4 linked regions of the Homo sapiens genome follow. The protein of the gene in region 3 purifies or fractionates together with the protein of the main gene of each other region. This does not show direct contact. Each region holds a gene or a part of one and is shown on either strand. Other genes may lie near its edges.

Region 1 (6,957 bases), on a different chromosome or scaffold from region 3:
GTTACAGGAATGCCAGGTGCACTGTGGAGTTAAGAAGGATTCCTTCCCTTGTACCAAATTTGTCATCCTACAGAGTTCCCCTCGGCTTTGGACTTTATGAATAAAGCTATTCATAGTAGGACCCACAGAACTAAAGCAATGATAAACTAGCAGGTAAAAAAAAAAATGCAGATATATGAAAAATGCAGATGGTAGGATGAAGTTGAGTTTGCTTTCTAAAATCAACAAATACTGAGTGCTACTTCTGTACAACTCATTGTGTTAAGTGCTGAATGTGTGTGTGTGCGTGAGAGAGACATATACTACAAGGATAAGACAGAACCCAGGTCTTCAAGGCTTGCAATGTAGTTGCTGATAAAAGACTGTAAACATCAAAGACATGATTAATAATACAGAGTACATAATTGTTAAGTAAGTGGCATAGATAATGTGTCTGCAGGAGTTCTCAGAAGGAGCAATCACTTCCACGGGGTGTGTGTGGTGGGGTGCGGAGGGAGGGGGAAATGGCAGACTTGTCAGGCAAGGTGCTTCAAACAAGGCACGGCACTTGAAATGAACCCAAAGGATGAAAGACTCTCGATAAGAAGGAAATGGCACGAGCAAACACTGGTGGTCTTAATGTCAGAGAAGGGAAAGAAATCAGGACTTAAAAGAAAGGACTGGCCCACACTTGAACAGCCTTGAAAGTTAAAGTACTTGTAGGAGTGGGAAAATGCAGAAAGGTGTTTTGTTGTTGTTGTTGCTGTTGTTTTGTTTTTTTTTGAGACAGAGTCTCGCTCTGTCACCCAGGCTGGAGTGCAGTGGCGCAATCTCAGCTCACTACAACCTCTGCGAAACTTCCAGTTCAAGCAATCTCCCTGCCTCAGCCTCCTGAGTAGCTGGGATTACAGGCGCCTGCCACCACCATGCCTGGCTAAGTTTTGTATTTTTAGTAGAGACAGGGTTTTGCCATGTTGGCCAGGCTGGTCTCGAACTCCTGATCTCAGGTGATCCACCTGCCTTGGCCTCCCAAAGTGCTGGGATTACAGGCATGAGCCACCACGCCTGGCCAAGTACAGAAACATTCTGAACACAGAACTATAAAATCTGGAAGAAGTTAATTTAACAAATGTCTTCTGTGGGGACAACTGTGTGTAGGACTGAATGATGACTGAAGATGAAGTTGCCTTTGGGGGGTACCTCACTTCAGCCTGAGACAAGGGTTGACTTGAGGTGAGAAGGGTACAAAGTAGGGTGGCAAGGGGCAGGTTTGCAAGTCCCGCGGAAGGAAGACCCAGCAGACCCCAATGACTGGCTGAGAGGCAGGCGACAAGGAAGCAGAGAAAGTCATGAGAGAAAGAGCTCTTCACAGCCTAAAGTTAGGCAGCTGGAAGAACATAAGAGTAAAGAAGGAAAGCTGGTGGACAGGGAGCGATGCAGAGCCTGGTTTTGGAGGTGTTAAATCTGGGAATATCTATATCACAGTGTCCAGTGGGCATCTAGAGATGGGGTTCTGGGGTTCAAGAGAGAAGAGCTGAAGTTTAAGCATAGGGGTATTCCCAATGGACAAAGAGTTGTGGGACTGAACAAGATTTCTCTGGGAGAGAGTGTAATGAGAGAAAAAACAGAATGTCAAACTTAAGCACCAGCGTGCCCCCAAGCTAGAAGGTGATGGTGGAAAGGGGTGTTCAGAAAGGAAAACCAAGACAGTCTGATGCCAAGAAAGGAAGGGGGGGAATGTCTCGTAGGAGAGAGTTGTCAACAGCAAAAAATGCTGCAAAATCAATTATGGGGCCTGAACACATATTTGTTGAACAAATGAATGAATGAAAGCAAGCCAGCCCTTGGTTTTGAGAGTCATCTCTCCTCAGCCAGAAGAATGGCCAGAGTTACCTTCAGACAAGAGAATTTCAATAAGTTTTACTGCATCCTTCCCATAAAAACACATTTCTGCCTCCACAAGTCATCCTGTCCACCATGCAGACATCCTTCCCTGCTTCCCCTGGTTCCCCCATCTTCCTTCCCAGTTTCCGCAACCCAAGCAACACACCTTCGGTGTCAAGGGAGACAGGAAACTCCAACTAGAGTTTCCACTTCATTAACAACTCTGCCTGTGGCTCCTCTTACATAAGGGGATATGTGGCAATGGGGTGGGAGAGGAGGCTGAGTTCTAGCCCCAGGTGAGCTCCTAACTAGCTGTGTGACTTTGGACAAGGTGTTCAACCTCTCAGGATCTGGGCTTTGACACAGAGTAGGAGATGGGTCCATCTGGAATCCAGACAAGTTTGAGCTCTCAAGTCTACGATATTATTCCCAGCGGGTCCTTGCAACACCCTCAAAGAAGGAAGTGAGTGTAAGACCCAGAAAAATGACCGACAGACCTCTTCCCGGGGCGAAATGCCAGGGCAGGCGGGGTGTACCATGAAAGTGAGAAAGCGTTGCGCGGGCCTGGAGGATCACCAGCGAGCGATCTCACTCCCAAAGCTGGGAAGGATCCCAACAATCCCAAGGGTGACTCTCACCCCGCACCCCATCTTTTATAGACTCCCAGACGGCCGAGAGGCTCTAAAAACCCCTGCGGGAAAAATAAAGATTTCTTTCCCAGAGTCCTGCGCTGCTTTGCAAGTCGGATTCCCGCAGACACGATCTGCAGCTCGATAATGACACAGTCTTTGGAAGGAGCGACTGTTCTCGCCTCGCTCGCTCCGAGTTCTGGGGACGCCTGGCTGCCCGCGCCGTGCCCCGACGGGCCGGCGTCCGACCCCGGCCGGAGCTGCCAGGCCAGCGGCGCCCTCGCCCCCGGCCTCCTCCCGATCCGTCGGCCCCGCTGCGGTCTGCAAACATTTCCTGCCCCCACCCCCACCAGGAGCTACCCAGTTGGAGAGAGTTGGTCGCGCAGCCGGCTCAGTGCTCGCAGTTGCCCCAACTCAGCTCCCCCGGCCGCCCGGCGCTGGGGAGCGGCCCCCTCTGGCTGCGGAGCAGCCCATCGGGGAAACCCAAGCGCCAGCACCAGTGGGGAGTCCATCGGTAAGCCCAGGACTCGGGCGAGGAGGGGGACAACTGGCGGGATGCCCGAGGCCCTGCTCCCTTCCCCATCGTTACCTGCTCGCTTGCGGGGGTGTCCCGGGGCTGCCGGCCTCTCCCGGCGCTGTCTCCCCACGCAGTTGCCCATGCTGGCTCCTCAGCCAGTCCCCATGCACCGGAGGCGGCGGGGTGGTCGGCTGCTCAGCGGACGGCGGCGTCCCGGGTCAATGGCTCCGGCCGCCCGGCATCGGGCGCTCCCCGATCTCCCCCCGGGGGCGCGCTCAGCCCCAGCGATGGCTCCGCCAAAACTTTGCGGGCCAGGGGAGAGAGGGAAGTGGCAGACTCCCCAGCACGGTCCCAGGTGGCCGGGCCAGGGGGGCCCGCGACGGTGCCCGGCCGGAGACCAGCTCCGCTGGAGGGGCGGAGAGAGGGGGCGGGCACCGCCGCAGCTACTCCCGGCTCGCTCGGGGCACCAGGCAGGGGCCGGCCCCCTGGAGCCTGTCACTCACCTGCCTAACCCCGCCCCAGGCCGGCCCCTCTCCCTTCCGCCGGCTCGCGGTGCCCGCGCCGCCGCCACCACCCGCCCCAGGTGCGCATGTGACCGACAGCACCGCCCCCTAGGGCTGGGCCTGATTTTCTCATTGGCTTCCCCCGTGGTGCGTACCGCCCCTCTCCCCACCCAGCCAGGTGCCCGCCCCGCAGCCCGTCTCCCGGGGAGCCGGGCTGGGAATTATTCGCCCTCAATCGCCTCCGGCTGCGTGCCCAGCAGCCGCCTTCCCTCTCGGTGCCACCGCCCCATTTCAGGCCCCGCCCCTCCCTGGAACTGCCTAGGCAGAAGCCGGCAGGCACGTGACCCCGGCGCCCCGCCCCCTTGCGCTTCCCCGGAGATTGGCTCGGGAGGCGCATGCGCGGAGAGCCCGTCTCGAGCCACCGCCCATATCCCCTCCCACGGTCTCTAGTTCGCGTTATGGCCGCTGCCGCGGCTGTGGAGGCGGCGGCGCCTATGGGTGCCCTATGGGGCCTCGTGCACGACTTCGTCGTGGGTCAGCAAGAGGGCCCCGCTGACCAGGTGGCTGCAGGTACGGCAGACGGCGCCGCGCGCCTTCCGCATGGGGGCCAACAGGAGGGAGCGGCCTCAGTACAGGCGCCGGGCGGGAAGGGAGGAGCGGGGTGACTTTGAGAGATTGGTCTCAAGGCTGGTTAGTGAGCACCGCGAGGTTCAGAGCCGTAACAAGTTAGAGAGTTGCCTGTGTCTTCCTTAAAACCATTTACACTTCTCATCTCCCTGTAGCCAATTATAGGGAATCATTACATTTTACAGATGAGGAAACTGAGGCTCAGCGAGGGCAAGAGGACTTGCGCAGGGCTGCAGACCAGGCAGGAGGGGGAGGTGGGACTCGGACCCAGGCGTTCAGGTCCGAACCGGGTGCTCACGCCACGAAGCCATGCTGTTTGTGGGAGGTTGACGTGTGGAGGTGCATCCTCGCAGCGTCCGCTCCCGTCGCGTGGCATCCTGGGAGTGGCAGATGGCCCCGCGCTCTGACTGGCTGGAATTAAGAGGAGTTGAGGAGACGGGCCAGGAGGAGCTGGAGATGTTCTGGGTGTCCTCCTTAAGACTTTCTCTCCGTTTCTTGCTAAAGTTCTTGATTAGTTTGCTCCATGACGTTTTATGTGGCGTTTGTTTTTGTCTTCTTCCCAGACCCCCACTTTCCTGCTTTTGACCAGTTCAGAGATCTCTTAGTTCAGACAGCTTATCTAAAATTAGAATAAAACGATTTCCAGGCTTCCGTGGAGTTCTGAGACTTTGCTCTTCTAGGAAAAAAAAAAAACTACTAAAAAGTTATTGAATGTTAGGAGGCCTTCAGATCTTGGGTTTAAGTAACAATATAAAATTATCTAATGAGTAGTTTTTTTAAAAAAACTTTGGAAATTTCGTATGCTTGGAGAGAAGTAAGGACACATTTCTCTTGGATATTGAGCGTATTAACCTTTAGAATATGTAAGAAAAGAATAGTGAATCTGCTAGAAATATAATACTTTGTTCGTTAGCAGTATTCCACTTTAATTCAATCATGCCACTATTGTTGAATACATATTATTCCCCAAACATGATGCAAAGCAATAGGAATATAAATACAAATTAGGTTAGATCTGTGCCCACCAGGAACTTATAGTATGCTGGGAGAGGCAACCATTCTGTAAGAGGTGTGTGCAGCGTAGTTTGGAAGCATCAAGGAGCAAATACCTGGTGCTGCCACCAAACTTAACATCTTACAATTTTATGAAATGTAGTGTGTTATCAGTGTTTACAATTTACAAGTACAGTGTCTTACCAATGTCATTTTCCCTCATATTTTATTATGAAAATTTTCGAATATCCAGCCAAGTATAAAGAATTTTATAAGGAGCACATCACTTAGGATCTATCCTACCATTAACATTTTAATATTACTTGCTTTATCATATAGCTATCCATCCATTTAAATTGCAGATACCTGTACACTTTCCTTTAAATACTTTGGCATGCATGTCATTGACTAGAGTTTGTTGACGGTTTATTTTGATGTAAAATGGAATATATAAACCTTTAAGTGTACGTTCACTGATTTTGACTAATGCATACACCTATACAATCCAACCCCCTACGAAGATATAGAACATTACTATATCAGTGTCATTTGTGATGAGTCTTTCACATTTATGCGATACGAAAACAATAATTTTGGATTTTTTTTTGATTCAGAACATATTTTGAAAAGACATCTTGAATGTCTTATCTTGAATAAGGACTTATCTTGAATAAGGACTGCAAATTCTTCTCTTTTTTTTTTTTTTTTTTTGAGACAAGGTCCCTCTCTGTCTGCCAGGCTGGAGTGCAGTGGTGAAATCATGGCTCACTGTAGCCTCGACCTATGCTCAAGCAATCCTCCTGCCTCAAGCCTCCCGAAGTAGCTGGGACAACAGGGAGTGTGCCACTGCGCTCGGCTAATTTTTGTATTGTAGTGACGAGGTTTCACCATGTTGCCTAGGTTGGTCTCTAACTCCAGGACTGAAGCCATCCTCCCATCTCAGCTTCCCGAAGTGCTGGGATTACAGGCATGAGCCACTGGGACTGCTAAATTCTTACAAACGTTTTTGCAAAATTTATATTTTTGTTTCTTTCTGAAAAAAAATGGTCTAAACTGTTGCTTAATTTGAATTCAACTCAACTGATTTAAGACTGTAACACTAGCCCTGTTGTAATTTAGCCCTCCTAAGAAAAGAAAGTTGGTGGTGGGCACAGTGGCTCACGCCTGTAATGCCAACACTTTGAGAGAACAAGGTAGGCGGATTGCTTGAGCCCAGGAGTTTGAGACCAGCCTGGCCAACATGGTGAAACCCCGCTCTACTGAAAATACAAAAATTAGCCAGGCATGGTGGTGCATGCCTGTAATCCCAGCTACTCAGGAGGCTGAGGCTGGAGAATCGCTTGAGCCTGGGAGGCAGAGGCTGCCGTGAGCGGAGATCGCGCCCCTGCACTCCAGCCTGGGCAACAGAGCGAGACTCCGTCTCAAAAAAACAAAAAGAAAAGAAAGTTGGTACAAAGGAATAGTAACAGATAAAAGTTGAAAAGGTTTGGTAGGGTTGGATTGTGTATAACTTTGGATTCCAGGCAGAGAAATTTGAATGACCTGTTATCTGTACTAAGAGTTGTTGTAGATCCTTGAGCCAGGGAGCCATAAAATGAAAACAAATTTGACAAGGATTAAGTTAATATTGTCAATCTTAGATCACAGCCCTAGTTAGGGTTGTTGAAGGATAACAGAGTGTTGAAGCGTTTATAGAATAAGATGTGCTTTCTAATCTTTCAGCCTAAATCAAGCTTTGTTAGCGCTAAAGGGACCAGCTAGCTTCCTGTTCAGTCACTCAGAGTAGCAGCCTGCAAATTTAAATGCAGAAGGAGCACCCTTTGAT
Region 2 (7,033 bases), on a different chromosome or scaffold from region 3:
TGACCTTGAGTCATTCTGGAATAAAATGTCTTTGGGGGACTGTCAGCTTCATTTTGAACTTGTCTTTTAGGTATGTCTGGAGAAAAGAGTGTTAACCATTTTAAGGGCCAATTCTAAGGTTGCCTTGCTTTTTAAAAACATTTGGTAGTTTATCAGTGTGTTTGTTTTGCTTCCAAATGAAGAAATGAGCATTAAATGAAAAATAGATCCTATTTGGATAAAAGCCTTATGTTTACTACTGAGGACATAATTTCCTGTTTATAGGAGGTTTCCTGTTTATAATATGAAGATTTAGTAAACACACTATAAACAGAATTATTATAACATTTAATGACTTAAGTTTTTTATTCACTCATGGAGGTGTTTCATTTCTAAAAATTCCGTGAGGGAGAGAGATTGAAGTCATTTATTTTTGCTTAGGTATAGAACATCTTGCTTGGGAGAGAAGACATGGAGTCTAGTTCAAGCTTACCTTTGCAGGGCATATATTTCCTCGTTTTTAAAATGAGATGGTTTTTAATTGACACTGTTGATTTCCTTAGGCCCCGAAAGTATGTGGATTCCATGGGAATGCCACAGCTTTTAACATTAACAGGATTTTGGAAAAACGGTCTTAAAGAACATTAAGTATTGTATTCATGTTTAAAAAGCAGGGTTGTGAAGCCTAAGTTTGATAGTTAAATTTTTTCCCTTGGGAAACTTGGACCAAGTAAGCACTGGTCTGCCTTTCCTAGTGTTGACTCCATGCTTCAGCGCTATTGCAGTTCCATTCTGGATCTGACTCTTTGCCTTTTCTATCACCTGACGGCTCACACATCACCATCTCTGGAAAGCTGGCCCTGATGTCCTGGTCTGGGTTAGGAGCCTTCTCTGGGTTCCCATGTTGTCCTGCCTATGTCACTATCACAGTATTTAACCTTTTGATTGTAGTTGGTGGTTTCTCCCACCAAACTGACCTCCTTTGGGACAGGGACACTGTGATATGCATCTGTCCCCAGTGCCTAGCATACTGCATGCATCAACATTCACATACATCCTTCCACTGGAAATCTTTACAGTGCCCTCTGAAGTGTGGGTACTATGGTTTAACCCACTTTACAGAATATAGGTGAAGGAGCTGAGACTTTGAGTGGTGCAGGTAAGGGCTAGGAAGGTAGTCAAGCCCGAGTTAAACGGGACAGGATAACTCCGGAGCTCAGGCTTTTAACCAGATGTTCCCTGAGTGTTTGACTAGTTTATGTGAAGATGGAAGAAGACTAGAAGAGATTAAAATGAAAATGCTTTAAGGACTGATATCTGATCATTATGGCAGAATTCATTATGCAGAACTGTGATCCACTACCAAGAATGAGCTTATTCTTCCTGGTCTTTTAGTAACATTGTGGGAGAGTAATTGGGCACTGATAGCATAGACACGAACAGTTCTGGAACTTTGGGGCTATTGTTAAATTGGGTGTGATGTTATGACTCATTGGCCTTGCAAAAATTTATAAAACCATTCAAGACTGTTCAAATATAACAAGCTGCAATTTTTTTAAAGGTCTGTGTTAGAAAATACTTCGGAAAATAGATTGTATGAAATGGGTGCAGCCATTTAAAATATGTATAAAGTGTGTATGTACTAGTGAAGGTTTTTTTGTTTTTTGTTTTTTGTTTTTTTTGAGACAGAGTCTCACTCTGTCGCCCCCACTGGAGTGCAGTGGCGTGATCTCGGCTCACTGCAACCTCCGCCTCCTGGGTTCAAGCGCTTCTCCTGCCTCAGCCTCCCGAGTAGCTGGGATTACGGTGCCTGCCACTACACCCAGCTAATTTTTTGTATTTTTAGTAGGGACGGGGTTTCACCATGTTGGCCAGGCTGGTCTCAAACTCCTGACCTCGTGATTCACCTGCCTTAGCCTGCCAAAGTGCTGGGATTACAGGCGTGAGCCACTGCGCCCGGCCGTGAGGATATTTAAAGTAGTAAAAATGGCTGTCATTTTAGGGGGGTAAGCTTGGGTGCTTTTAAAATATTTTTTCAAGAAAAAATTTAAGAACCAAAAAGTAACAGCATGGCGATCTCAAGATGGAGAAGACCTAGATATAACACCAAGCACGGGAACTGTAAAGGAAAAGATTTGAGTACTTTAGAATAATAAAACTTCTCTGTGTTAAAATTCCATAAACAGAATTAAAAGGTGACTGGCAAACAGAAAAATATTGTAACTTACAAGCAAATTTACTTTCCTTACTGTAAAAAGAGGGCATGTGAACACCACCAACAAAAGCGGCCCCCCCCCACCCCCGTGGAAAAAAATGGGCAAACTGGTAATTTATAAAAAGAGGAGCAGGAAACATGAAAAAACTTTCAGCTTTACTAGCAGTACTCCCAGAAATGCAAATCAGTGAGATACTGTTGTTGTTTTTTTAATTGGCGTAGATTAAAAAATGAACTACTTATGGTGAAGGTATGGAGAAATGAGCTCACTCATACCTTGCTAGAAAGAGTGTAATTTAATATGATTTTTTGAGAGCAAAGTACGTAACAAAAGCTTGTAAAATATGTATGTGCTTTGAAATAGCTATTCCATTTCTAAGAATTTAGTCTAAGAAAATACAAAAAAAATGACTACTAGATTAATATTCTGTCCAGGGTGTGCTGTTATTTAACTAATACCCTCTTAAGCATTTGTTTTCGTTTTTTTGCTGTTGTTAAGGATGATTATTTCAGCATTTAGATCAATCTTTAACTTCCATAATACTGTATTTAATGAACATTTAGTTAGTATTAATGATAAAATGCAACATAAAACAACATATGTAAGTAATAGCTAAACTTTATTTTGGTGTGTGAGTATATGCATTTTTTAAAAAGATGAAAACCAGAATGTTAGCATTGATTGTCTCTGAGCAGTGGAGTTATTTTTAGTTTCTCTTAGCAGTAGGTTATTATTTTTTTTTTCCTCCAACTTTCTACAGTGCACATATATTTATAGTACAGTGGATTAATTTATAAAATCAAGAAATCCCAAAACAGGAGAAGCAGGGGAGCTACTTGCAAGGAAGACATTTCTGCTTAGTTTAATGCTGAAATCACTTAGTGTTTGCCGTACTGGCAGCCCCTTTCCAGGTGTGTTGATGCACAGGGTTAAATATCTGACTTCCGTTGGGCTGTATTTCCAGCGGTCAGGTTCTCCTTTGCTGGACTAATCTTCTTCTCATTTATTTCCCCATATCTTAATCCTTCAGATACTTTAGTCCCCTCATTTAATGCCCTCCATGAAACTGTCCTAATCTCATGAAACTGATTGATGTTTTGATGGTTTATTGTAACACTAGATTAGGTACTAATGAATTGTCTTCAGTGTGGAAGTTTCTTTTTTTTAGTAATAGTGTGAACTTTTTTTGCTTAGTTCACAACTCCTAGTGATAGTAGATGTGTTTTAAATTAATCTTTAAACTTAATGTCATTATGCTTAAGATAAGAATTTGCTAAAAATTAGAAAAAGTATTTTGGTCTAGTTTCTGCAGTAGCTTGGAAAATTCAGAGGCTACCATCAATTATTTAAGAAGTGTATGCTAAATAGTACAAATGAGGAATACTGTTGTAATTATGAGAAAACCGTTGCACAGAAACGTGTCACCTAATGCTGGGAGGGGGCACCTTTGCTATGTCGAAATTAATTAAATGCTAACTAAAATAGTTACGTGTGCCTAATAGGCATCCGAAAGTCAGAACGGGGGAAAAAGGCTGACAGCTCAGACCTCCTTTTCTCAAGGCAGGAAGGAGGCTTTGGTGAGACTGGAAGGAAAGGTTTGGAATCCTAGATGATGTCAATAAACCAGACTCTTTGATCCCAAGTGGAATTCAGGGAATAGACATGAAGACTAGGCCATTTCCCCCTCCCCAAACTTCAAGCTTATCTATAGGAACTTGGAGACTTTGGTGTGGGGGATGGTGGAGAAGAAAAATTCCAGACTGATTCTTCTGACTTCTCTCATTTTAAATACGTAAAATCTTTAAAACGTTTGCTTGCCATTTTATCTTACATGCAATAATAACCCTTAGTCTAGGTTGAGCATCCCTAATTTGAAAATCCTAAATCCTCCAGAATCTAAAACTTCCTTAGTTACCAACACGATGTGACAAGTGGATCATTTCACCCCGACCTCATGTGATGGGCCACGGTCAACATGCAGGTGCACAACAGTTTATTCAGTGTCCCCAAGGGGAAAGTAAAATTACCTTCAGGCTGTGTGTATAAGGTCTATATGAAACATGTGAATTCCCCGTTTAGATTTGGATCCCATCCGCAAGATACCTCAAATATTCCAAAATATGAAACAGTCTGAAATTCAAAAGACTTCTGGACCCAAGCATTTCAGATAAAGGATACTCAATTTGTGTTCAGTGCTTGGTATGAGCCAAAGACTGTGCCGAGCTTGCTTTGTGACTCCCTAGCTGCTTGCCCTCAGCTTTCTGCTGCTTGGAGATACCTCAAATGGGACAGAAGGCTGTCTAATGCAGTCCTGGTTGAGGATGGACTTTGACACACAGCATGGGAATATATTACATCAATCATAAAGTAGAGACTACTGAAATGAGAGGGTCTCCTATTTGATGTGTTGATGAAAGGCTACTTGGGCATCTGTGTAGAGTAGGTCCTACCAACAAGGGACTCAAAACACACAAAGGGAAGAAGGGTTAGGAATGCTGAAGACACATACTGAAATTGGCTCTTCAGTAGTGCCTTTGTTACATGTTCTATATATAGGGGACTTTGCCCTATACAGGGTATGTGTGTTGGGGGTGGGGGCGGCGGGGGGCGGGGTGGGTGTTTAATGTCTGCAGTTTAGCTGGGGCTTTACAGGTGAAACGTACTGTATGTGTTCTCTCGACATTATGAAGATTTTGTTTGTTTTGGTCACTGGTATTTTTATAATGGAGCTCTGCCTTACTACTCTACTTGTTTTACTGCATTTTCAGGATTTTTATTTAGGCCAATATTTGGCTGTCTGTGTTCTGTGATATGTAAGGTATGGGAATAGGAGGGAAGATCTGTGAATAAACGTAGGAAATGCCAGGTGGCATATTGAAGGGCCTTTAAAATCTTAATTTGTTTTGCTGCTGTTACAGGGAGATATATCTTATAGGGTATGTATATATGTATACATACCTACATTCATATATATTAAAAGGTCCACTCCTAATTTAATAAGAAATTACCTTTGAAGGAAGAAAACTCCCCTACCATATTAACATGTTTTGTAGAACACATACTGATTTTAAAATCATCGAATGTGGAAAATTAGGTCTTTACAGTAGAGATTTGATATGGAGTGAATTGATGTGTTCATTTTTTTCTCTTGGAACGAGCACCTGGAAATATTCGTGGTTCTTTGTAGCACAGTGTGGGAAGTGCCATAGAGGCCAGGATCCTAATGAGTATGGTTATAAGTTTAGTGTCTAGAAATAATTTTTGCTTCACCCTAGTCCTTGTTTAAATCCTAAATACTATCAGAGGAATTATATTAAAAAAATTTTAAAGCATATGGGAGACAACACAATCAAAGCCTGTGTCATTTACATGTTATTGGTGGTGTCATGTTGAGATCACTTTTTATTTTTTTAAATAATAATTTTTTTTTTAAGTTTCAGGGTACCACAGGTTCGTTACATAGGTAAACGTGTGCCATGGTGGTTTGCTGCACCGATCAACCCATCACCTAGGTATTAAGCCCTGCATACATTAGCTGTTTTCCCTGGTGTTGGTCCCCACACCTTCCCTGACAGGCCCCAGTGAGTGTTGTGCCCTTCCCGGTGTCCATGGAGAACACTTTTTAAACCTGTAAAATAATGGTTTAACTACAAAGTTGTTTCACATTTTTTCTTTAAAAATCTAAAACTTCCTGGGTTTTAAAAGCATCTCAATACTTCTCTTGAAGGCACTCTTAGATTTGTACTTGATTCATTAGATTGGTTCTCTTGCATTTCCAATTCATGGTTTCCAGAGGGTGAACGCTGTTCTCAGGATGTCTTGCGTTAGAGGAGTTTAGGAAGCATCACCAGGTCTGTTCTCCAGTGTCCCCTTCTGAGTAGGGGCCACATCGCTCATTTCCCAGACTTGTGGACCAGGTTACCTTTCTTTTTTCTTGGGTGACCTCCTGAGGTTAGGGTTCTGTGCAGAATACTTGCTGTTCCAGTTCATCTTATCTTTTCTAACTCTTCATGAGCATTCAGGAGATAGCTTTAACTTGATCCTCTCTTCTAGTCTTTTTTGCTTTGTGGTTTCTCAGTTTTTTCAGGTTAAGCAATTCTCAGCAACTTCAGCTGAGAGCCTTGCAGTCCTGCTAATAGCCTTCAGGGCTTTTGCATTTGACTAACCTGGCCTTTCTTCCAACTTGGCTTGCCCCAAACTGATCTCTTTTTTGCTCCCTAGACCATATCCGACATCTCTATTTCTAGCGTTGTGTCAGAGACACAGATTTCAGACTTGACTTCTTTTGTTTGTCCATATTCAGTGATCTACCAAATCTTACTAGTTCCTCCCCCATAACACTATGTGTTTATACCTTCCTCTTTGGCCCCGCTGTCACCAGCTTCATTCTGCCCTCACGCCTGGCGATGCAGTGCGCTGCTGATTGCTGCTTCATTCAGGACTTGCCTGGCTTCCTTGATTACAGAGGCTCTCCAGGGCAGGTATTGGGCTGCTAGCATTTGATAGAGTGGGCTCTGCTCTTTGTCTTTGCAGCCCTTTGCCACAACCATCCTATCTCATCTTCATAAGCTTAAAAAAATCCTGAAAATCTAGCTGTGTGTATCATGCTAACATGCTTTTTAAAAAAACTGGCTCTGCTGCAATTTTCACTTGAAAGTAGCTGGATGTTGGTTCTGGGTATTTGTCTCTATCTCAGCTCTTCAAACTGGGAATGTGATTTCTAGTAACAACATTTAGCAAAATTTCAACAAAGCAACCAATTTGCGGAAGTTGTGTTAACTTTGAGGTTTTGCCATAATAAATTATAAATGTTGGAATTTTTCTATTGATAAGGCTAA
Region 3 (6,510 bases):
ATGGAAAGCCTTTAAAATTTACAGGGTGACTTGTTAAATAACTTGTGTCTGAGTTCCACATAGGTTGTTCTTAAAGCAATGCTCTCTCATAGTCTTTTCCTTAAAAGGATATGTGGACAACCTAGAAAGTGTTAGAAAGAAGTTGTGTTGTATCCAGTTTTGCAAGATGACACTTGTTCCAGTATCTTTCAAAACAGCTCAGCTTGTACAGTAGATATCTAGTGAATGCTCAGGGGCATCCTTGTTACTATTTTTATTATTTCTGAAAGTAGTGTGTTTTAATACGTGGTATTAGAGCAATGGAGAAGTGTATTTAGGTGACAAATTATATTTCAAATATTTGAAAGTGACGTTTAGCTAAAAATATATTTTTTAAAAGAAAACATATATAGTTAACTATCAGGTTACTAAATGTAAAAGAAGTTAATACTGATAAACATTAGTCATTAAGTAATACATGATAAGTAAAGCAGAATGATCTATTTTCCAAGCATTAGCAGAGATTTTGGAGATAATAAGTTAGTTATCATATATTCAAACAGTGCCCAGTACAGTGCAAGACACTGTACATAAAGTGTCTTGATATAAAATGCAAGTCTAGATTCTTCTGAATGATTCTTTATGACTTTTAAATTTATTTGATAAGATTTGAAAAGTCTTCTTAGCCATAACATTAAAAAATTTCTTTAACATTTAAGAAGTGTTAAATGGAATAGCATAGTTGTAGAGCTGTGAAGAACATTTGAGCAATGATAGCAAATAAACTTTTTTACTGATTTGCATTTCAATGTATGTATAATTTATAAATTAAGATAGATTAGCTCATAGTTTTGGAGGTGACACAGTCTCAGATGATGTGCTCTTTTATGTTTCTAATTTAAGTTAAAGAGGAATTAAAGGTAAGTGAAGGTAAGTGCAGATATACAGCATAAGTAATATACTTAGAACTCAGTAAAAACAAGTTATTCAATAATAAAAGTCTGGAGAAATAATAGCTAACCTTATACTTCCTATCATCTGATACTTAAAAATGCTTTCTTATAAGATTATTCTTTACCACGCATTTAAATATTTTAATGATTATTCAATTATATTTTTCTATTTTCTTTATTATTCCTTAATGTAATTTAGGCTTTATATATCTTAACCATTTGGGTTCTGTGTCCTACATCGAGATGGAAGTTTGCTGGTGATAAGTCAAATATTTAAAGGGAACTACCTTGTGAATTATCTTCGTCTGTTAAAGCATAGCTGTCTACCTGGCAATCCATCATATCTTAGTCATATTTCTTTCTAGTTTTCCCTCACCTTTTCTGTTGTCCATTTATTCTGTTGTCCATTTATTCACTTCTCTGAACAGTCCTTCTGTGTTACTTAAGGATTTTATTGTTAATGTTGCTTATACTTTCCATGCTTTGGAAGGTGTTAGTCTCCTGTTTTCTACAATGTGATACTGAGTTTAAAACAGTGCTTGTCTTCATTTTTGTTTTGGCTCAGGCCTTCAGCAGATCCTTTAATGGGTGCTGTCACTTTCATGATTATTGGGATCAAATACCAGTAACTACTCTTATTATTTACCTTATCATAGGATTGTAGTTTTGAGTCATTTAATACTATAGTTACTGATTAAGTTCATATAGCCTTCTTTAAACAGATTCTGCTTTCAAATTTGAAAACAATATATTCTCTCTCTTCACTCTGTATACTTAGAATCTCACTGAAACTCAATTCTGGTGAACTTAAAATGTATTCAGAGTTCTTGCCTATATTCATATAAAATGTGTCTACTCACTGAGTAGACACATTTTATATGAATATAGGCAGGAACTTTGTTTTGTGATAAATAAGGAGATGCTGACAGTAGGTTTGTGCTTTTTACCTAATACAGGGTAAAAACTTTTATTTCTACATTTTTCTTCCCCCATTATCTCTGCCACCATCCCTTAGACTTCAGGAGCATAATGACCCAGGTAGCTAGGGTGGAAACTGAGCATGTGGACCCTACATCTTTTGGGGAGGGTGGTGAAAAACTGTGTCATGTCAGGTTAGATCTGAATCTCTAGGAGAATAGCTTTTTTGATCTGTTTGCTCCTTTGAGTCTCCCTTTTACTTTATCCTTTGAAAACCAATTGCATACTTCACTTCCATTGCTTCCAGATATGGCATATTTTTCTTAGGCTACTGTTGAAATTTAGCATAATATTTCTCCCTTACCTTTCTGTCCTTTTAAAAAAATAGGACTATAGTAAGTCCTCCGTGTCGGTGGTATGTTTTTGGAAACTGACTTTAAAGAAAACATACAGGAAGTCCTCAAATAGTGTCATTTCATTATAATGATGCAAACAAAACAACTACCTTTGTTATACGTTATTTTGCTTAGAGTCGCAGTTTCTAAGAACCTATCGATGTTAAGTGAGGACTTAATGGTATAGACATTTTGAAATATTTGAGGGAGTTGCAGTTTGGAAAAATTGTATAGAGTCTTCATGTCTCTTCTTATTTCTTTAAAAAAATTTAGAATGGAATTTTAATCTGATAAAATGATAATCAGATCCATTTTGGCAAAACCCAGTGAATCTGGCATTTCATGATGGACCTAAGGGTCAGAGCAGGAGAATGGCAGTGAGGCAGGGCTTGTGTCTTGAGGAGAGGCACTAGGTGATTGGTAGACAAAACAGTGGGCAGTGTAAGGGGTGAGGAAAGACAAGCTAAGAAGGGGAATAATGGGGATTGGGTGGTGCACAGTGGGTAAAGCTGGCATTATATTCAAAGGAAAAACTTGGTTAAAGATTGGCAGTGGGAGAAGAATTTCAGATCATAGGGTTGCTTCTCAGGGCATTTTTAATAAGTATTCAATATATACTAAAACATTTTATCTTGAGTTTGTGATTAAGATGATTAACATTGTTTCTTATTTTAAGGGAAAATAATTTTAACAAAATGCTGCTTTGTGAATTTTAAATATTTAACATATTTAACTTCTCATTTAAAGACCAGAAAAGATTGTTATTTTGATTAAATAAAAATTGGCTTTAGTAATTCAACTTTATATTTAAAATAATTTTAAACTTCCTGTTATGGAAAAATTTAACATCGAATAATACAACGAATCCTCATGTACCATCAGCTTCAGCAGTTATAAACCTGTGGGCAGTCTCCTTTCATCTATACCATTGCTCATTCCCATATCTACTCCGCCATTAAGCTAATCACAGGTGTCATATCAACTTAAAAATTAATATGACTGAAAGCATAAGCTGTTGTAGTTCCACATATTTGCGTAATGTTTATTAGTTTCTTTCCTAAGACTGTATGTCTTAAGAAATTTGCCCTTTGTATTTTGTATGTGCCATTTGGGGAATATAAGGAAAAGTTAAATTTCTGGAAATTAATGTGTTCTATGTGTTTAGTTGGAAGTAATTGTTATGGTAGTATTAGCTTACTTGCTTTTTTGTTGTTGTTGTTGCAGCCGAGTGCTGTTTTAGAAAATAAAAAGTAAATTTAAAATGTGTTTTTGAGTTAAGCTAGATATCACCCCAGAGTACTGTGATTTTTCAGTTACAATCCATTTGATATATTCTGCAGTAAAATTATATTTCATGTACAGTTTTCATTTTGTATTGTTCCTTATATCACAATTGCAAGTATTTTGGTTGTTCTTGTTGATATGTAAAGAACAAATTAACTACTCCTTATTTGTTCATGGTATAGACATAATGAAAGACTTCAATATAGTTGAAACAATCTTTTCCACATTTGCCTGCTTTTATGAAAATATCATTCATTCAGAGTACTTGACATTTGAATATGTGCTGTGAAACTTCTTCTTTGATATTTTCTAATTCTCAGCTATGTTCCCTAATGGGTCTTGTATCTAGTGCCTGGGTAGCATAGTGTGACTGGGATAAAATGTCAGTTATTCCACAGATTTTTTTTTATTCTTTGTAAGTGAATGATAATTTTTACTATGGCTACAGTTTAATTGATCACTCATTATATATTTAATTTTGGAAAATAATTTCATCTAACCCTACCATATATAGATATTTTTGGCTACAAATACTAAATAAAAATATGGCAAATATATTAAATCTTTGTCTATATAGTTTATTTTGCTTTAAAATTTGAAGATAATATTTATTGTAATTGCTCAATACTGACTTCTTTAGCTGATCGATTATAGTTAGGGCTGTTTTTTGCCTTTATTACATTTCTAGGGAGGATGTTCAGATTATAAGAATCTTTTTATAAGTTAGCTTGGCAATCTTGCTTCTGTGGATTGTCTCATTTCCATTTTGGATTTTTATATTGTAAGTTGTTGCTAAAAATTATTTTTTTCCCTTCTTCCACTTACCTTTTGGACCATGAAGGATATATTAATTAAAGTCAAGCTGCTATTGAGTTTTGTGTCTGAATAATTTCTTATACACTTATCATGAGATTTACTTCTATCATATAAGTACTGCTAGTAAAACCAATGAATGTTTAACTCCTTCATAAGCAAAATTATTTTTATGTGATCTCTAAGAAATTCCTCCTTTCACATTTTTCTGTTTTCATACAGGTCCTCATGCTGATACCGCCAGTGGATGCCAGAATTTGCAGTGTGGTTTTCGAGCCTGCTGCCGCTCTGGCGAATGACCCTTGACTTCTGATCTTTGTCTACTTCATTTAGCTGAGCAGGCTTTCTTTCATGCACTTTACTCATAGCACATTTCTTGTGTTAACCATCCCTTTTTGAGCGTGACTTGTTTTGGCCCCATTTCTTACAACTTCAGAAATCTTAATTTACCAGTGAATTGTAATGTTGTTTCTCTTGCAAATTATACTTTTGGTTTAGAAAGGGATTAGGTCTTTTCAAAAGGGTGAGAACAGTCTTACATTTTTCTTTTAAATGAAATGCTTTAAAGAATGTTGGTAATGCCATGTCATTTAAAGTATTTCATAGATAATTTTGAGTTTTAAAGTCCATGGAGGTGATTGGTTCTCTTTACACATTAACACTGTACCAAGCTTTGCAGATCTTTTCCGACACACATGTCTGAAGACTTATTTTCAAAGACAGCACATTTTTGGAAACTAATCTCTTTTCCGTAATATTTCCTTTATTTCAATGATTCTCAGAAGGCCAATTCAAACAAACCCACATTTAAGGTTCTTTAGGATTATAGAATAAATTGGCTTCTGAGTGTTAGCTCAGTGAGCTAGGAAAGCACCAATCGATATTTGTTTCCTTTAGGGATACTTTGTTCTCACCACTGTCCCTATGTCATCAAATTTGGGAGAGATTTTTTAAAATACCACAATCATTTGAAGAAATGTATAAATAAAATCTACTTTGAGGACTTTACCAAGTAATACTGTTGTGTTGTGATTTTTATTATAAATCTCAATCCAGGTTTACTTTAGTATAGAATAGGACTACATACTTTGTCTTTGGACCTCCCATGAACTTATTACCCTGACAAATAGTTTTAGACAGATACTGAATTTTATTGAGCTGAATTTTCTTTTTGAAATGAGTTATTCAGTAGTCAAAATTTGAATCCGTAAGTATATCTACTTTGCTTTGTTAAAACATCATGAGAGTGGAGGCCTGCCACCCAGAAAGGCACATACTAGTGCCTTTTAGTACAATTTTATGTCATGTAGAAGAAAATGGCAATGTTCCTCCTATTGATACAGATACAGGCATATGTCATCTTATTGCGTTTTGCTTTATTGCACTTTGCAAATAATGCATTTTTTACAAATGGAAGGTTTATGGCAACTCTGCGTTGAGCCAGTCTATTGGTGCCATGTTTCCAATAAAACTTCTCCTTTCATGTCTCGTATATTGTGATAATTCTTGGAGTATTTCATAGTTTTTCACTATTATTAAATCTGTTGTGGTGATCTGTGGCCAGTGATTGTTGTTACTATTGTAATTGCTTTGGAATGCCATGAACTGTGCCCTAATAAGACAGAGAACTTAATTGATAAATATTATGTATGTTCTGATTGCTCCACTGACCAGTGGTTCCTGTCTCTCTCCTCCTCAGACCTCCCTCTTCCTAGAGACACAACAATATTGAAATTAGGCCCCAGCTTATAACCTTGCAGTGGACTTTAAGTGTTGAAGTGAAAGGAAGAGTCATGTCTCTCACTTTAAGTGAAAAGCTAGAAATGATTAGGCTTAGTGAGCAAGGCATGTCGAAAACTTAGGCCCAAATCTACGCTTCTTGTGCCATACAGCAAAGTTGTGAATGCAACAGGAAAGTTCTTGAAGGAAATTAAAAGTGCTACTCCAGTGAACACCCAATGATAAGAAAGTGAAACAGCTTTATTACTGATATGGAGAAAGTTTTAGTGGTCTGGATAAATGAAACTAGCCATAAAATTCCCTTAAGCCAAAGCCTAATTCAGAGTAAGACCCTAACTCTCTTCAATTACATGAAGGCTGAGAGAAGTGAGGAAGCTTCAGAAAAGGTTGAAGCTAGCAGGGGTTGATTCATGAGGTTTAAGGAAAGA
Region 4 (5,482 bases), on a different chromosome or scaffold from region 3:
CTTTCTCCAACCTGAGGGCACGGCCAAAAAGATCTGGTTATTTTTTAGCCAGGAACGTGCTTGTTAATGAGTATGTCTGGAGGACAGACCTGCTCATTAGGTGTGCTGTCCCCTGTAGCCTCGTGAGTCAGCCCAGAGGAGGGTACATGCGACTGTGGCCTGGCCTCAGTGGTACCCACACATCAGCACTACCACAAGAACCAACACTGAGCCTCGGAAGCTAGATCACAGGTTAGGGGTTTCTCTAGATGGGGGTTCTGAAATTTGCAGTGTCTGCTCCTGGGAGGCAGCACCAGAAAGGGCACTGAAATGTACTAGCTGGATGTGACCCAGTCTTAATAAACAGGTTTTCTAATCCAGATCTTCCGACTGTCTTCAAATTCTTACCTTCTGTTCTTTAGATTAAATGCACACAAAATTGAAAGATGATTCTGAAGGGCAGTTTCCTCAGGGTAGCAGTTTTCAAATGATTTGGTCTTAGGACCTCTTTACACTACTAAAAACTAAGAAACTCAGGTTTTTGTTTTTTTTTTTTTCTTTTTAAATAACAAATTTATTTTTCACAGTTCTGGAGGTTGCCCCAAAAAGCTTTTATTATCTAGATTAAGGTTAATGCACTTTTAAATCATAATGTTAACATTTTTTTTCTTAATAGAGACAGAGTTTAGCCATGTTGCCCAGGCTGACCTTGAATTCCTGAGCTCAAGTGATCCGCCCACCTCAGCCTCCCAGAGTGCTGGGATTACAGGCATGAGCCACCATGCCCAGCCCACGTTAACATTTTTTATGAAGAATAACTTCCAAAACAATCCAAGGAGAAGGGTGGCATTTTACAGTCTCTTTAGTATCTTGTTATAATAAACAGTTGAATTCTTACAGCTGCTTCTACATCCAAACTTTTTTGTTGAAGTAAGTTGACTTCACACAGATACGCAGTTGGAAAAGTTTTTAAAATAGCCTTTTCAGCTAATTGTGGCTATTCTTTGATACCACACCAAGACTACAAGTGATTTTTTTTTTTTTTTTTTTTTTTTGAAATGGAGTCTCGCTCTGTCACCCAGGCTGGAGTCCAGTGGCACGATCTCGACTCACTGCAACCTCCACCTCCCGGGTTCAAGCTATTCTCCTGCCTCAGCCTCCCGAGTAGCTGGGACTACAAGGGATCTGCCACCACGCCCGGCTAATTTTTGTAATTTTAGTAGAGACGGACTTTCACCATATTGGCCAGGCTGGTCTTGAACTCCTGACCTTGTGATCCACCCACCTTGGCCTCCCAAAGTGTTGGGATTACAGGCGTGAGCCACCGCGCCCGGCTTACTACAAGTCATAGTTTCTTAAAGGCAATGTAGACTCCGAAAACTTAATGCACTCTTATATTGTTAATACATTAAAATCCACTGGCCTGTCTTACACTTTTGAATCAATCTTTGAGCCATGCATGATTTTGTAACATCACGTACTGGTCACTTGGAAAAATGGTTCATTGAATTCTTCCAAATGAAATGCATTTCATTATACAAATCACATTTGTTAATATCCCCAACAATAAAGCTCATGGTGGAGTACAGATTTTCGGAAATTCCAATTTTTGCTTGAAAGCTTTATCACTGGCAACACTATCAGTTGTTTCCCTTGAGGTGAGAGGCTCATTCCATTAATTTCCAGAAAATATCAGCCAAATATTCAAGTCTAAATACCGTAATCTGCTAGTTCTTTCAATTCTAAAGGGCATGCCTTGAACACAGCCAATTCAGCTTGCAACTCAACTGTGTAACTGCTTTTCCTCAAGGCACCCATACTTCAGTGCACAGCAGAGGGGCTTTATGCATGCTTCCAGTTTTCTCAGAATATTATAAATTCTCAAGGTCAACTTTTTTTTTCTTTTTGAGACAGGGTTTCACTCTTGTTGCCTGGGCTGGAGTGCAATGGTATGATCTCGGCTCACTGCAACCTCCACCTACCGGATTCAAGCGATTCTCTTGCCTCAGCCTCCCGAGTAGCTGGAATTACAGGCATGCACCACCATGCCCAGCTAATTTTGTATTTTTAGAAGAGACGGGGTTTCTCCATGTTGGTCAGGCTGGCCTCGAACTCCCGACCTCAGGTGATCCGCCCGCCTCAGCCTCCCAAAGTGCTGGGATTACAGGCATGAGCCACTGCGCTGGCTAGGTCAACATTTAATAGTTAACCATTGCTATTTGTTCTATCAAGGACATATCAAAACTACTAGAAGTTTGCTGCCACCACCTTGATTCATGCCACAGTGCCAACAGTTGACCTCACAGATCCTCCCTGAAAGGGTCTTGGGACTCCCAGGATCTGCAGGCCGCATTCTTCGAGAACCACTATTCTAGGTACAGCCCCACTGTCCTTCTAAAATCTAAGGTCACAGCTTAAACTTCAGGGAAGGCTGTAGTTTTGGAGGCCATTGTCACATTAGAACCCATTTAGAAGTGACTGTCAAGAGACAACTTGAGTGAGTCTGAAACTGCCTGCTGATGGCAGTGTTTCTCAACTGGTTTAAATCGCCAGTCCCCTAGGAAGCCTTCTTCCTGATCACTCCCTGCCATGAAAATGGAATATCACAGACACACTATATGTGCTGTGGGCCTTAGGAGGGCCACAAACAACTGCTTGTGATTTTTTTTTATCCTTACTGAAGAACCAATTTGCATCCCTGTTGAGAATACAGGGCTTGTGGCCAGTAATAACTCTCCCTTTTAGGATTCCTGTCTTTCCCCATTTTTTTTCTATCCCCAGTTGCCATCACAGCGTAACGGTGCAGGGAGGTATATGAGGGTTGCTAAGGGAAAGCAGAGGTGCCCCTCACTCAAACCTACATTCAGAAAAAAATTTCCTTCATTATTGATTGGATGTCTTAAATGCAAAGACTTACACAGAAACTGGGAAGGGAGGACCTATTTCAGACAAGGATTCACCATGGAATTTTTATGAATATCCTTATAAAATAGGACTTGGGATGCAGATGGATTATTTCTTTAAGTCTTGCAACTTCAGAAAAGCCTGAGACACATACCCCCTCCTACTATATATAGTGATTATAAATAGTATATTTACCTCCAAAAAATTTAACACTGTGCCCTAATGCAAGAAAAATCTGTGGTATAACAATGTACTCATGTTCTGTAGCTCTTTACTGAAGGCCTCATGTCAAAGGCGGGGAAGGAAAGCAATTCTGTGGCTCTGCACTTCTACCCAAGTCTGAAGAGAAGTGAGCCAAGTTAAATGAAGGTCAAGGATGCTCCTCCTGGTCCTCTCAGGGGCTGGTAAAGTCTTATATGACGTTTTCTGGGGAGTCATTACTCTGTCCAAAGTCGAGGTAGCTCAGAGGCCTTCAGGCCGCTGATACTTCCAGAAGGCCACCTCCCCATCATCACTGCAGGAGGCCAGTAGCCCTGGCTCCTTGGGGTTCCAGGCCACACAGTTGACATCCTGGGAATGGGCCTGATGCAAGTGGGCTGTCAGGGAGAAGGTGGGCTGCTGTGGATCCGAGTTGGGATCCTCCTGAAACACGCGGATCGCGTCATCCCCACAAGCTGTGGCCAGAGCCCCTGTCAGCTGACACCTGGAAGGAAAGTGACATCAGTGGGTATACCTGACTAATTAGGCCAGAGAGACCTGTTCCATAGTTCCTGGCCTGTTCTCTTCCCTAACTTCAGGCCTCAGCTAAAAACCTCTTATTAAAATGTTTCCTTAACTAATAAGGAGTCACAAATATCACCCACTTATATCTTCAGATGCTGCAATCTAGTTCTTTCCCCTACTATGATTATCCTAAAAAACGACATGCAATTATGAACTGCACTTTCCTCACTTGGCATAAGCAGTTTCCCATGTCATAAAGTTGTTTTTTTTTTTTTTTTTTTGAGATGGAGTCTTGCTGTGTCGCCCAGGCTGGAGTGCAGTGGCACAATCTTGGCTGACTGCAACCTCCCCCTCCCAGGTTCAAGCGATTCTCCTGCCTCAGCCTCCTGAGTAGCTGGGACTACAGGCATGTGCCACCATGCCCGGCTAATTTTTGTATTTTCAGTAGAGACAGGGTTTTATCACATTGGACAGGCTGGTCTCAAACTCCAGACCTCAAGTGATCCACCTGCCTCAGCCTCCCAAAGTGCTGGGATTACAGGCCATGAGCCACTGGGCCCAGCCATCATAAAGTTTTTTTTTTTTTTCTTTAGATGGAGTCTTGCTCCATCACCAGGCTGGAGTGCAGTGGCGCAATCTCGGCTCACTGCAACCTCCGCCTCCCGGGTTCAAGCGATTCTCCTGCCTCAGCCTCTGAGTAGCTGGGATTGGGTGCGTGCCAACACGCCCAGCTAATTTTTGTATTTTTAGTAGAGACGGGGTTTCACCATGTTGGTCAGGCTGGTCTTGAACTCCTGACCTCATGATTCACTCACCTTGGCCTCCCAAAGTGTTGGGATTACAGGCGTGAGCCACAGCGCCTGGCCCCATCATAAAGTATTCTTAACCCCTTTCTTTAAACAGTGATACAACAAGCTGAGTTCTACCATAATTTACTTAAGTTCACTTTTGTTGAATAGGTGATTCCCAAATGTTTGCTAATATAAAGCAAGCTTAAGTGCTCAGTTTTTTTCACTGTTTTGGATTTCCTAGGGATCAATTCTCAGGGCCAGAACTACCCTCTAACCTACTCTCCTATATGAATGGTGCAGCTTTTCCAGCTTCCACAAGGCCAGAGTCAGTGTTACCTATAAAAACCCCAGCCACTGCCAGGTGCGGTGGCTCATGCCTGTAATCCCAGCACTTTGGGAGGCCAAGGTGGGCGGATCATGAGGTCAGGAGATCGAGACCATCCTGGCTAACGCGGTGAAACCCCGTCTCTACTAAAAATAAAAAATTAGCCAGGCATGGTGGCGGGCGCCTGTAATCCCAGCTACTTGGGAGGCTGAGGCAGGAGAATGGTGTGAACCCGGGAGACGGAGCTTGCAGTGAGATGAGATCACGCCACCGCACTCCAGCCTGGGCTGCAGAGTGAGACTCTGTCTCAAAAAACAAAAAAACAAAAAAAAACCCTCAGCCACGAATGCAGATTCAATAATAACTTCTGGACAGCACGAGCTGTGCGAACCTCTAGCGCTGGTGCTACCCTCACAGCCTGGGACTGTTCTCTGCTCCTGTGAATGCCAGCCCAGCCAGCTGTAAACCAGCATGGTAGAGTCAGGCCTGATAAGGAATGGGGGTGGCTGCCCTCAATTCCCAAGCACTCCCCCAGGGTTGCAGAGGACTGCATAGGGTATGCCTTCTCTAAAATCCCTGATTTATGGGGATGGGATGGGGTGGGGGGATGGAGTCTTACCAAGCAATGTCATAAATGGTCCTTGAGTGGAAGCCGGACAAAGTACAGATACATTTCCAACTGGGGTCAGAGCCGCTGCATGCCACCCCTGCAAGACAGACTTCTCTTGCCCTTAAACGTTCCTATGTCCTGGGCACCTCA

What was found.
Region 1: the proteins of FBXL5 (region 3) and MMS19 purify together in Homo sapiens (affinity purification with mass spectrometry; 5 studies listed by BioGRID and IntAct, with this or other methods). This does not show direct contact.
Region 2: the proteins of FBXL5 (region 3) and CUL1 purify together in Homo sapiens (affinity purification with western blotting; 12 studies listed by BioGRID and IntAct, with this or other methods). This does not show direct contact.
Region 4: the proteins of FBXL5 (region 3) and CIAO1 purify together in Homo sapiens (affinity purification with mass spectrometry; 3 studies listed by BioGRID and IntAct, with this or other methods). This does not show direct contact.

Annotation. Positions count from the first base shown.
Region 1 is NC_000010.11:97,495,398-97,502,354, reverse strand, and holds the start of MMS19 (MMS19 nucleotide excision repair protein homolog), read left to right. Parts: upstream 1-3,932; 5' UTR 3,933-3,970; coding exon 3,971-4,082; intron 4,083-6,957. Other genes in the region: UBTD1 (ubiquitin domain-containing protein 1), read right to left, coding at 3,082-3,151. UniProt on the Homo sapiens protein: Key component of the cytosolic iron-sulfur protein assembly (CIA) complex, a multiprotein complex that mediates the incorporation of iron-sulfur cluster into apoproteins specifically involved in DNA metabolism and genomic integrity.
Region 2 is NC_000007.14:148,701,890-148,708,922, forward strand, and holds part of CUL1 (cullin-1), read left to right. Parts: intron 1-7,033. UniProt on the Homo sapiens protein: Core component of multiple cullin-RING-based SCF (SKP1-CUL1-F-box protein) E3 ubiquitin-protein ligase complexes, which mediate the ubiquitination of proteins involved in cell cycle progression, signal transduction and transcription.
Region 3 is NC_000004.12:15,603,854-15,610,363, reverse strand, and holds the end of FBXL5 (F-box/LRR-repeat protein 5), read left to right. Parts: intron 1-4,564; coding exon 4,565-4,641; 3' UTR 4,642-5,983; downstream 5,984-6,510.
Region 4 is NC_000002.12:96,269,215-96,274,696, reverse strand, and holds the end of CIAO1 (probable cytosolic iron-sulfur protein assembly protein CIAO1), read right to left. Parts: intron 5,430-5,482; coding exon 5,342-5,429; intron 3,587-5,341; coding exon 3,346-3,586; 3' UTR 524-3,345; downstream 1-523. UniProt on the Homo sapiens protein: Key component of the cytosolic iron-sulfur protein assembly (CIA) complex, a multiprotein complex that mediates the incorporation of iron-sulfur cluster into extramitochondrial Fe/S proteins.